Linked DNA regions of Homo sapiens: all the other regions are linked to region 1. The links come from fine-mapping of genetic effects on gene expression. A gene starts in region 1. Each other region holds a variant in brackets. All regions are shown on one strand. Distances are between the middles of the regions.

The links. PIP is the estimated chance that this variant, and not a neighbour inherited with it, causes the effect. A credible set is the group of variants that fine-mapping cannot tell apart.
Region 2: its variant is the best candidate, but not a certain one, in a credible set for the expression of LURAP1L in sun-exposed skin (GTEx, PIP 0.59).
Region 3: its variant is the best candidate, but not a certain one, in a credible set for the expression of LURAP1L in tibial artery (GTEx, PIP 0.83).

The regions. Positions count from the first base shown.
Region 1 is chr9:12,773,632-12,776,397 of GRCh38, reverse strand. LURAP1L (leucine rich adaptor protein 1 like) reads right to left here and starts at 1,378. Exons shown (of 2, transcript NM_203403.2): 1 at 371-1,378. The coding sequence starts at 682. The region is part of intron 2 of LURAP1L-AS1 (LURAP1L antisense RNA 1); the gene reads left to right.
Region 2 is chr9:12,333,863-12,336,628 of GRCh38, reverse strand. No RefSeq gene overlaps it. Among named protein-coding and RNA genes, the nearest start is that of TYRP1, 360 kb to the left of the region's middle. RefSeq lists an enhancer at 1,669-2,302. The variant A/G (reference allele first, on the strand shown) is at 1,545.
Region 3 is chr9:12,672,885-12,675,650 of GRCh38, reverse strand. No RefSeq gene overlaps it. Among named protein-coding and RNA genes, the nearest start is that of TYRP1, 19 kb to the left of the region's middle. RefSeq lists cis regulatory regions at 367, 387 and enhancers at 295-439, 315-459. The variant G/A (reference allele first, on the strand shown) is at 1,527.

The DNA of each region.
Region 1 (2,766 bases):
AGCGCACAGCAGGCCTTAGATGGGTGCAATAACTGCAAACTCTCAACGGGCTGGTGCCTAAGAGGCTACGGGCTGGCAGCTAAATAGAGCCCGGCGCAGTGAGTCGCGTTGTCCGAAAGTACACAGAGTGGAGCCAGCCGACTGTGCTGTCTTTGCAAACCGTGACCGAGCAAAGTCCGCGGTAAACAAGCCTCGCAGCAGCTGCCTCCGGATGAGCGCCCCCTGCTCATTCCTCCACCCAGCATTTCCCACGCGCCCAGCGCTCCGCTCTGCAGCCCCTGCCGTCCTCTCTCCCAGCCCCATTCTCAGATCGCCCCATCTTTTGGCCCAGCCCAGGTCCCAGCCCCCGCGGCTGGCGCACCACACTCACCATCTCTTGCCTGAGGAGGTGAAGCTTGGTTTCTAGCCTCTCCAGGGCGCTAGAGTGGCTACCTCGTGGGGAGCCAGAGGTTGGGGAGGACGAAGAGGAGGACGACAAGGAGGGAGGGAAGCTGCAGTAGCTGCTGCTGCTACTGCAGCCGCCGCCGCCGCCGCCACCACCACCGCTCCCCCCGCAGGGGTCCCTGTCCCTTTCCCTGGGAACCGGCTCCTCCCCACGGAGAGAGCGCACTAGACTCTCGGGTACTTTGCGCCCCAGCTTCAGCTCGATGTCTCTGAGGTCTGGCAGCGGGCTGTCTTCCATGACTTTTCCGGAACGGCGATAATAGTAATAAAACGCAGCAGATGAAAGGCAGCCACGGCTTCGAAGGCTGCTGCGAAATCAGCAGACCTCTCCGGGGGCCAGGGTCTCTATCCTCCGCCGCTCCGGTGTACCGTCCTTTCCATAACCGCCTATGCGGTATCAGCCCTGAAATCCGCACAGGACGCGGGGGGTCGCAGCTGCAGTTCCCAGTCCGCTGCGACTCCTCCGACACTAAGATGATCAAGATCTCCTCATTCTCTCTCTTTTTGGCCACCTCACTGCAAAGTTGAGTTCACTGATATTGCAGACAGAGGGGGAATAAAGAGGGGGAAGTAGTGAAAGAAAAGAGAGGGAAATTAAATCTGTTTTAGCTTTACCAAGGGAAAATTTTCACATTATAAAACCGTCCGTTCACATCCCTGCGCCGCTCACTGACTGCCCATCTGGTACTACGCGACACAAAATAATGATGCAGCCAGAAACGATGTCCTGGGTCGTTTCATTTTCCAGCCATATGCCTCCAAGCTTTCGGGATATCCTGGGTTGTCAGAAATAATCTCTGGTCAGTGAAAGAGGAGTTCGGTCGTGTGCATGGACCCATAAAAAAGAGCTAGTTAGCTTAGCAGGAGTTTAACGGCTTCCTTGATGCAGCAAAAATGTCCTTCTTCCCATTTAGGCTGTTTGATCCAAGTCATTGTGTTCCTCTGAGCCTCGGAAACTTTAAACTCCGCTGGCAGGTGGACCAAACCAGGACCAACCCTTCTACCGTATATCACAGACAAGAAGAGCAACCGGAATTTTCCCAACCCTGTCGCTAGTAGCAGAGTTTCAAAGCCCTGCTTTAGTTAGGAATACCAGTTGATTTTTCAGTTTTCCTGACTAGCTACAACCTTTAAAACAGGTTTTAAAATGAGAGATAGAGGAATGACTTTATATTTGGTGTCTTCGTTTCCCATCTCTCTACCTTCCTCAAAGGAAAAACAAACAGAAAACCTCTCTTTAGAAGACTTTCCTAATAATTTTATTCTAATAAAAAGAGTGAAACAATTTCATCAAAAGTTCAATGGAAATGTACAATCAAAATTAATTATCCTACCAACTGTTACAGTATGCAAACAAAAGTGAAAAATTAAATAGCCAGAATAACTTACATGACTGCTGAGATAGCAGTGAAATTTTAAGAACAAGCAATTGCTGAGATACTTACTTTTATTTTAATTATGGAAGAAAAAATATTGGGAATAACTATTTAAAATGTTGTCTTCTTTGATAATTTATCTATAAATTAATTTATAGATTTTTTCAACTATACAAATTGTACAATTAATTGTATAGTTGAACAATTGTACAATTTATTAATTTGTACAATTGTACAATTCATTAATCTGAAATACTTCTACCAAGTAAGTTATTATGAGCTACATGGATTACAGATCTGAATCAGCATTGAGTTTGTGTCAAAAATGTTTAAGTAGAGGATACTAATTTCAATCCAGTAAACTACAATTTTTGATTTCCATTGAAATATTTCAAAGTATGTGCCCCTCTATTTCTGTGACATATAAGTATTTGTGTTCCTGGTCACTCCGAGGCTCCATTTCCAGAGACATCATTCAGGTTTTACACTTGTAGGAACATAGGTATATACATCTCAGAGTTTGTTTTTATCATATCTGACTCTAGGAAACCTTATACGTAGAGGAAACATACGCATTCTAAATGAAATATTTCATGTCAGGGAAAAAATGCTGAACTTTCTATCAACATGCCAGAAATTTGCATGCTATTTCTCCCTTTTAAAAAGAAATGAAGAAAATAGTTATAAGTTAGATGACCCATTTCAAAGTTAGAACTACCACTTACAGAATCAAGGGAAAACAAGACCAAATCCCAGCTAACTGATAAAACTACATGCTTGGTCCTAAATTTGGAAAAACACAAGCTCGTTGCATAAGAATTGCACTGTGGCATGTAATTATGAAAGGCTTGTGTTTCAGTCAAGAACAGTTTATTATTACAAAACCCTTACAAAGTTCAGCATAAGGCTGGCTAAGTGCAGTTTATAGATGAAATATCTAGCTAGA
Region 2 (2,766 bases), 440 kb after region 1:
GGAGAGCTTTACTTCCAAGTATGTGGTCAATTTTGGAATAGGTGTTGTGTGGTGCTGAAAAAAATGTATATTCTGTTGATTTGGGGTGGAGAGTTCTGTAGATGTCTATTAGGTCAGCTTGGTGCAGAGCTGAGTTCAATTCCTAGGTATCCTTGTTGACTTTCTGTCTTGTTGATCTGTCTAATGTTGACAGTGGGGTGTTAAAGTCTCCCATTATTAATGTGTGGGAGTCTAAGTCTCTTTGTAGGTCACTCAGGACTTGCTTTTTGAATCTGGGTGCTCCTGTATTGGGTGCATATATATATTTAGGATAGTTAGCTCTTCTTGTTGAATTGATCCCTTTACCATTATGTAATGGCCTTCTTTGTCTCTTTTGATCTTTATTGGTTTAAAGTCTGTTTTATCAGAGACTAGGATTGCAACCCCTGCCTTTTTTTGTTTTCCATTTGCTTGGTAGATCTTCCTCCATCCTTTTATTTTGAGCCTATGTGTGTCTCTGCACATGAGATGGGTTTCCTGAATACAGCACACTGATGGGTCTTGACTCTTTATCCAATTTGCCAGTCTGTGTCTTTTAATTGGAGCATTTAGTCCATTTACATTTAAAGTTAACATTGTTATGTGTGAATTTGATCCTGTCATTATGATGTTAGCTGGTTATTTTGCTCGTTAGTTGATGCAGTTTCTTCCTAGTCTCGATGGTCTTTACATTTTGGCATGATTTTGCAGCGGCTGGTACCCGTTGTTCCTTTCCATGTTTAGCGCTTCTTCAGGAGCTCTTTTAGGGCAGGCCTGGTGGTGACAAAATCTCTCAGCATTTGCTTGTCTGTAAAGGATTTTATTTCTCCTTCACTTATGAAGCTTAGTTTGGCTGGATATGAAATTCTGGGTTGAAAATTCTTGTCTTTAAGAATGTTGAATATTGGCCCCCACTCTCTTCTGGCTTGTAGGGTTTCTGCCAAGAGATCCACTGTTAGTCTGATGGTCTTCCCTTTGAGGGTAACCCGACCTTTCTCTCTGGCTGCCCTTAACATTTTTTCCTTCATTTCAACTTTGGTGAATCTGACAATTATGTGTCTTGGAGTTGCTCTTCTCGAGGAGTATCTTTGTGGTGTTCTCTGTATTTCCTCAATCTGAACGTTGGCCTGCCTTGCTAGATTGGGGAAGTTCTCCTGGATAATATCCTGCAGAGTGTTTTCCAACTTGGTTCCATTCTCCCCGTCACTTTTAGGTACACCAATCAGACGTGGATTTGGTCTTTTCACATAGTCCCATATTTCTTGGAGGCTTTGCTCATTACTTTTTATTCTTTTTTCTCTAAACTTCCCTTCTCGCTTCATTTCATTCATTTCATTTTCCATCGCTGATACCCTTTCTTCCAGTTGATTGCATCGGCTCCTGAGGCTTCTGCATTCTTCACGTAGTTCTCGAGCCTTGGTTTTCAGCTCCATCAGCTCCTTTAAGCACTTCTCTATATTGGTTATTCTAGTTATACATTCTTCTAAATTTTTTTCAAAGTTTTCAACTTCTTTGCCTTTGGTTTG[A/G]ATGTCCTCCCGTAGCTCAGAGTAATTTGATTGTCTGAAGACTTCTTCTCTCAGCTTGTCAAAGTTGTTCTCCATCCAGCTTTGTTCCGTTGCTGGTGAGGAACAGCGTTCCTTTGGAGGAGGAGAGGCGCTCTGCTTTTCAGAGTTTCCAGTTTTTCTGTTCTGTTTTTTCCCCATCTTTGTGGTTTTATCTACTTTTGGTCTTTGATGATGGTGATTTACAGATGGGTGTTTGGTGTGGATGTCCTTTCTGTTTGTTAGTTTTCCTTCTAACAGACAGGACCCTCAGCTGCAGGTCTGTTGGAGTACCCTGCCGTGTGAGGTGTCGGTGTGCTCCTGCTGGGGGGTGCCTCCCAGTTAGGCTGCTCGGGGGTCAGGGGCCAGGGACCCACTTGAGGAGGCAGTCTGCCCGTTCTCAGATCTCCAGCTGTGTGCTGGGAGAACCACTGCTCTCTTCAAAGCTGTCAGACAGGGACATTTAACTCTGCAGAGGTTACTGCTGTCTTTTTGTTTGTCTGTGCCCTGCCCCCAGAGGTGGAGCCTACAGAGGCAGGCAGGCCTCCTTGAGCTGTGGTGGGCTCCACCCAGTTGGAGCTTCCCGGCTGCTTTGTTTACCTAAGCAAGCCTGGGCAATGGCGGGCGCCCCTCCCCCAGCCTGGCTGCCGCCTTGCAGTTTGATCTCAGACTGCTGTGCTAGCAGTCAGCGAGACTCCGAGACTCCATGGGCATAGGACCCTCCGAGCCACGTGCGGGATAGAATCTCGTGGTGCGCCGTTTTTTAAGCCTGTCGGAAAAGCGCAGTGTTCCGGTGGGAGTGACCGGATTTTCCAGGTGCCGTCAGTCACGCCTTTCTTTGACTAGGAAAGGGAACTCCCTGACCCCTTGCGCTTCCCGAGTGAGGCAATGCGTCACCCTGCTTAGGCTCCCGCACGGTGCGCGCACCCACTGACCTGCGCCCACTGTCTGGCACTCCTTAGTGAGATGAACCCGGTACCTCAGATGGAAATGCAGAAATCACCCGTCTTCTGTGTCGCTCACGCTGGGAGCTGTAGACCGGAGCTGTTCCTATTCGGCCATCTTGGCTCCTCCCTGCACTCTTGCATATCTCATATTACATTTTTTGCTTCCCTTACACATAATAGAGATGTTAAGCCATAAGTTAAGTTTGGGATCAGAAATCTCTGCCCTATCCTTCAGCCCTCTATAAGCATTGTTTTGCTTT
Region 3 (2,766 bases), 100 kb after region 1:
CAAATACATAAACTTGAAGTCTTATTCAGGTCCTTAATGAGATCTGCAGTGCCAATATCTTCTAACTACAAATTGTAGTATGTTGCACAGGGGTCAGATCTCAGAGAACATCTAATCCAGCTGAACCTCTTTACGTATAAAGAAACTGAGGTTCAAAAGACATAAAAGGAATTAATCATGTTGACCAAGTTAGAGAAGTTCCAATGTAAGAAAATTAAAACTATTCTACTTTTTAAGAATTGGAGAAAATGCCAAAGAAATATATACGAACGAAAATAACTGAATGAATTCCACAAATGCAGTTCTCATGGATGCTTGATAACTTAGCATTGTTCATTGAGCCAAGTGACATCAGTCATGTACGTACGCATATGTACGAGCAACCCATGACTTTCGATACAAAGAAGGCAGTATTTTCCTTTCCTCAGAAGTTTGAAAGTCACCAGTTTAAACTTTGAAAATGTATTCTCATAAATTTAAGAGCACCATGTCTCCTCTTTTCTAATTAAGTTTTTTATGCCATAGCCAGGCACGCAATCAGAGCCTATCCCATGAATAGTTACTTAAGACTTAAAGTCACTAAGTTTTTTATCCTCCACATGTGACTTGATCTCATGGACATAGAGAATAGAATGATAAATACCAGAGACTGGGAAGGGTGGGTGGGAGAGACTAGGGATGATCATTAGTTATGGATACAAACATACAGTTAATTAAAAGAAATACGTTTTAATGTTTGACAGCAGACTAGGGTACTATACTTAGCAGCAATATTATGTGTATTTTAAAGTAACTGCAACAGATGACTTGAAATGATGCCAACATTTAAAAATGATAAACACTCAAGGTGATCGATACCCTAGATACCCTGGCTTGATCATTGTATATTCTATGCATGTACCAAACACTCATGTACACCTCATAAATGTGCAAAAGATTACATATCAATAAAACAGGAAAAAAGTGAAAAAAAGGCATCAAGAAGAAAGTAGCACCTTGAAATAAGTGCAAACAGTTGGAGAAACAGATTATTAATTTTAAAGACAATCTGCCAACTGCTTAAATGACATCTCACCTTCACATTGTTCATTAATTATATATTCACAGCCTTAACTTCTGGAGATTAATTAATGCTGAGGAACAACTATAAGATATACAACCCATATTAGTTGTTTAAAACGAATATGGTAAAACCATTATTTTTAAAACTGAAAAATAAATTCACTGTATATAACTCTAGACTGGAAGTGTTACAATGTTGAGGACAGTGACAAAAAAACATAAAATAATAAAAACAAATATTATGTTGGCAGGGAAAGGCAGGTGTAAAATCTACACTGTGTTAATTATGTCTTATTTGATGTCTGTTTGGGTATACATTACAGATAAACCTTCTATTCAATGTAAATAAAAAATTTTACGTAAATATATGACTGCAGTAAGCGTAGTTTTCTGAGACTGAGCTCTGTGCCATACAAAATAATGTTTTGCGTCTCAATTTGATGACAAATCTCAGTACTCTGATA[G/A]CCTTTAAGATTCTTAGGAATGTGTAAGAAAAATTAGGTTAATCCTACTCCCAATTCTTTTCTATCTACCATGGAACTAGGCCACATAGAATTTCACTATTATAACAAATAGTTTCAGACATTTTCCATCTATAAATGGCAAGATGCACTTAAGTTCACACAGTAATTAGGATCAATGAAGACCATTAGCATTTTAAATTGCAGTAGATCACAGGAAAATGCTAAATTCTTCCAAATGTATTTCATAAAACTCTGAAAACCCTAATCCCAAAAGCACATACAGATAGCACTTAAAAACAAAACTACAGAACCATCTCATGTAGGAATATAGGTACAAAAACATCCAAAATAAAATAGCAGCAAATAAATTCCAGCAGCATATTGAACTACATAAATTTTAATAAATAATTCATTTAGTATATGCAAATGGGAATTTAATTTTAGGAAAATGATTAATATATTCTATCAATAAGTAAAAGTAAGAGGTATTGTGGAGTTCTTAGTAAATGCTTAAAAAGACATTTAGGAAAATCTAATACCTGTTTTTGGTAAAAATATACTCGAGCTTAGAACAGAATTTTTCTTTAACTTCAGTAAAAACTGCATATTTAAGTCAACAGCTACCACTGTAGTTAAAAGTGAAACATTTCAGTAATTTTTATTAAAATTAAGATGAGGCCAGCATGGATAACCGCTACTATGAACATTGTTTTAGAAGTTCTACCTAATGCAATGAGACAGGAAATAGAAAAAATATATATATATCTACAGTAACATTAGAGATAAGTTTTTGATGCTGCTCCTGCGTTGATGGTAACAATATAGAAGAAAATCAAGTTAGATATTTATTTTGTTTATTATATTGATAAGAAAAGTAGATTAAAATAGTTCATGTAAAATGTAAATATTAAAAAAGAGGTGAATATTTGACATAAATAGGCAAACACTTTTCCAATACAAAGCCTTTTTATTAAAGGGAAATTATTTATAAAAATTACAGACAAAAGCACACAAATTGCACTTACAAATCCATGAGAGATACTATCAATTGACTAATAGGAAAAATTTTTGCAAAGACAGGTTGAATAAATAGAGTTTACCAATGAATTTAAGAAAATCTATGCAATCTCATAATCAATAAAGATAATTTTAGATGTTACTTTTTGACTGCAACATTGGTAAAGCCTTTAAAAAAATAAAGCCTTCAGTGTGTAATGCTGTCCACCTTCATACAGAGCAG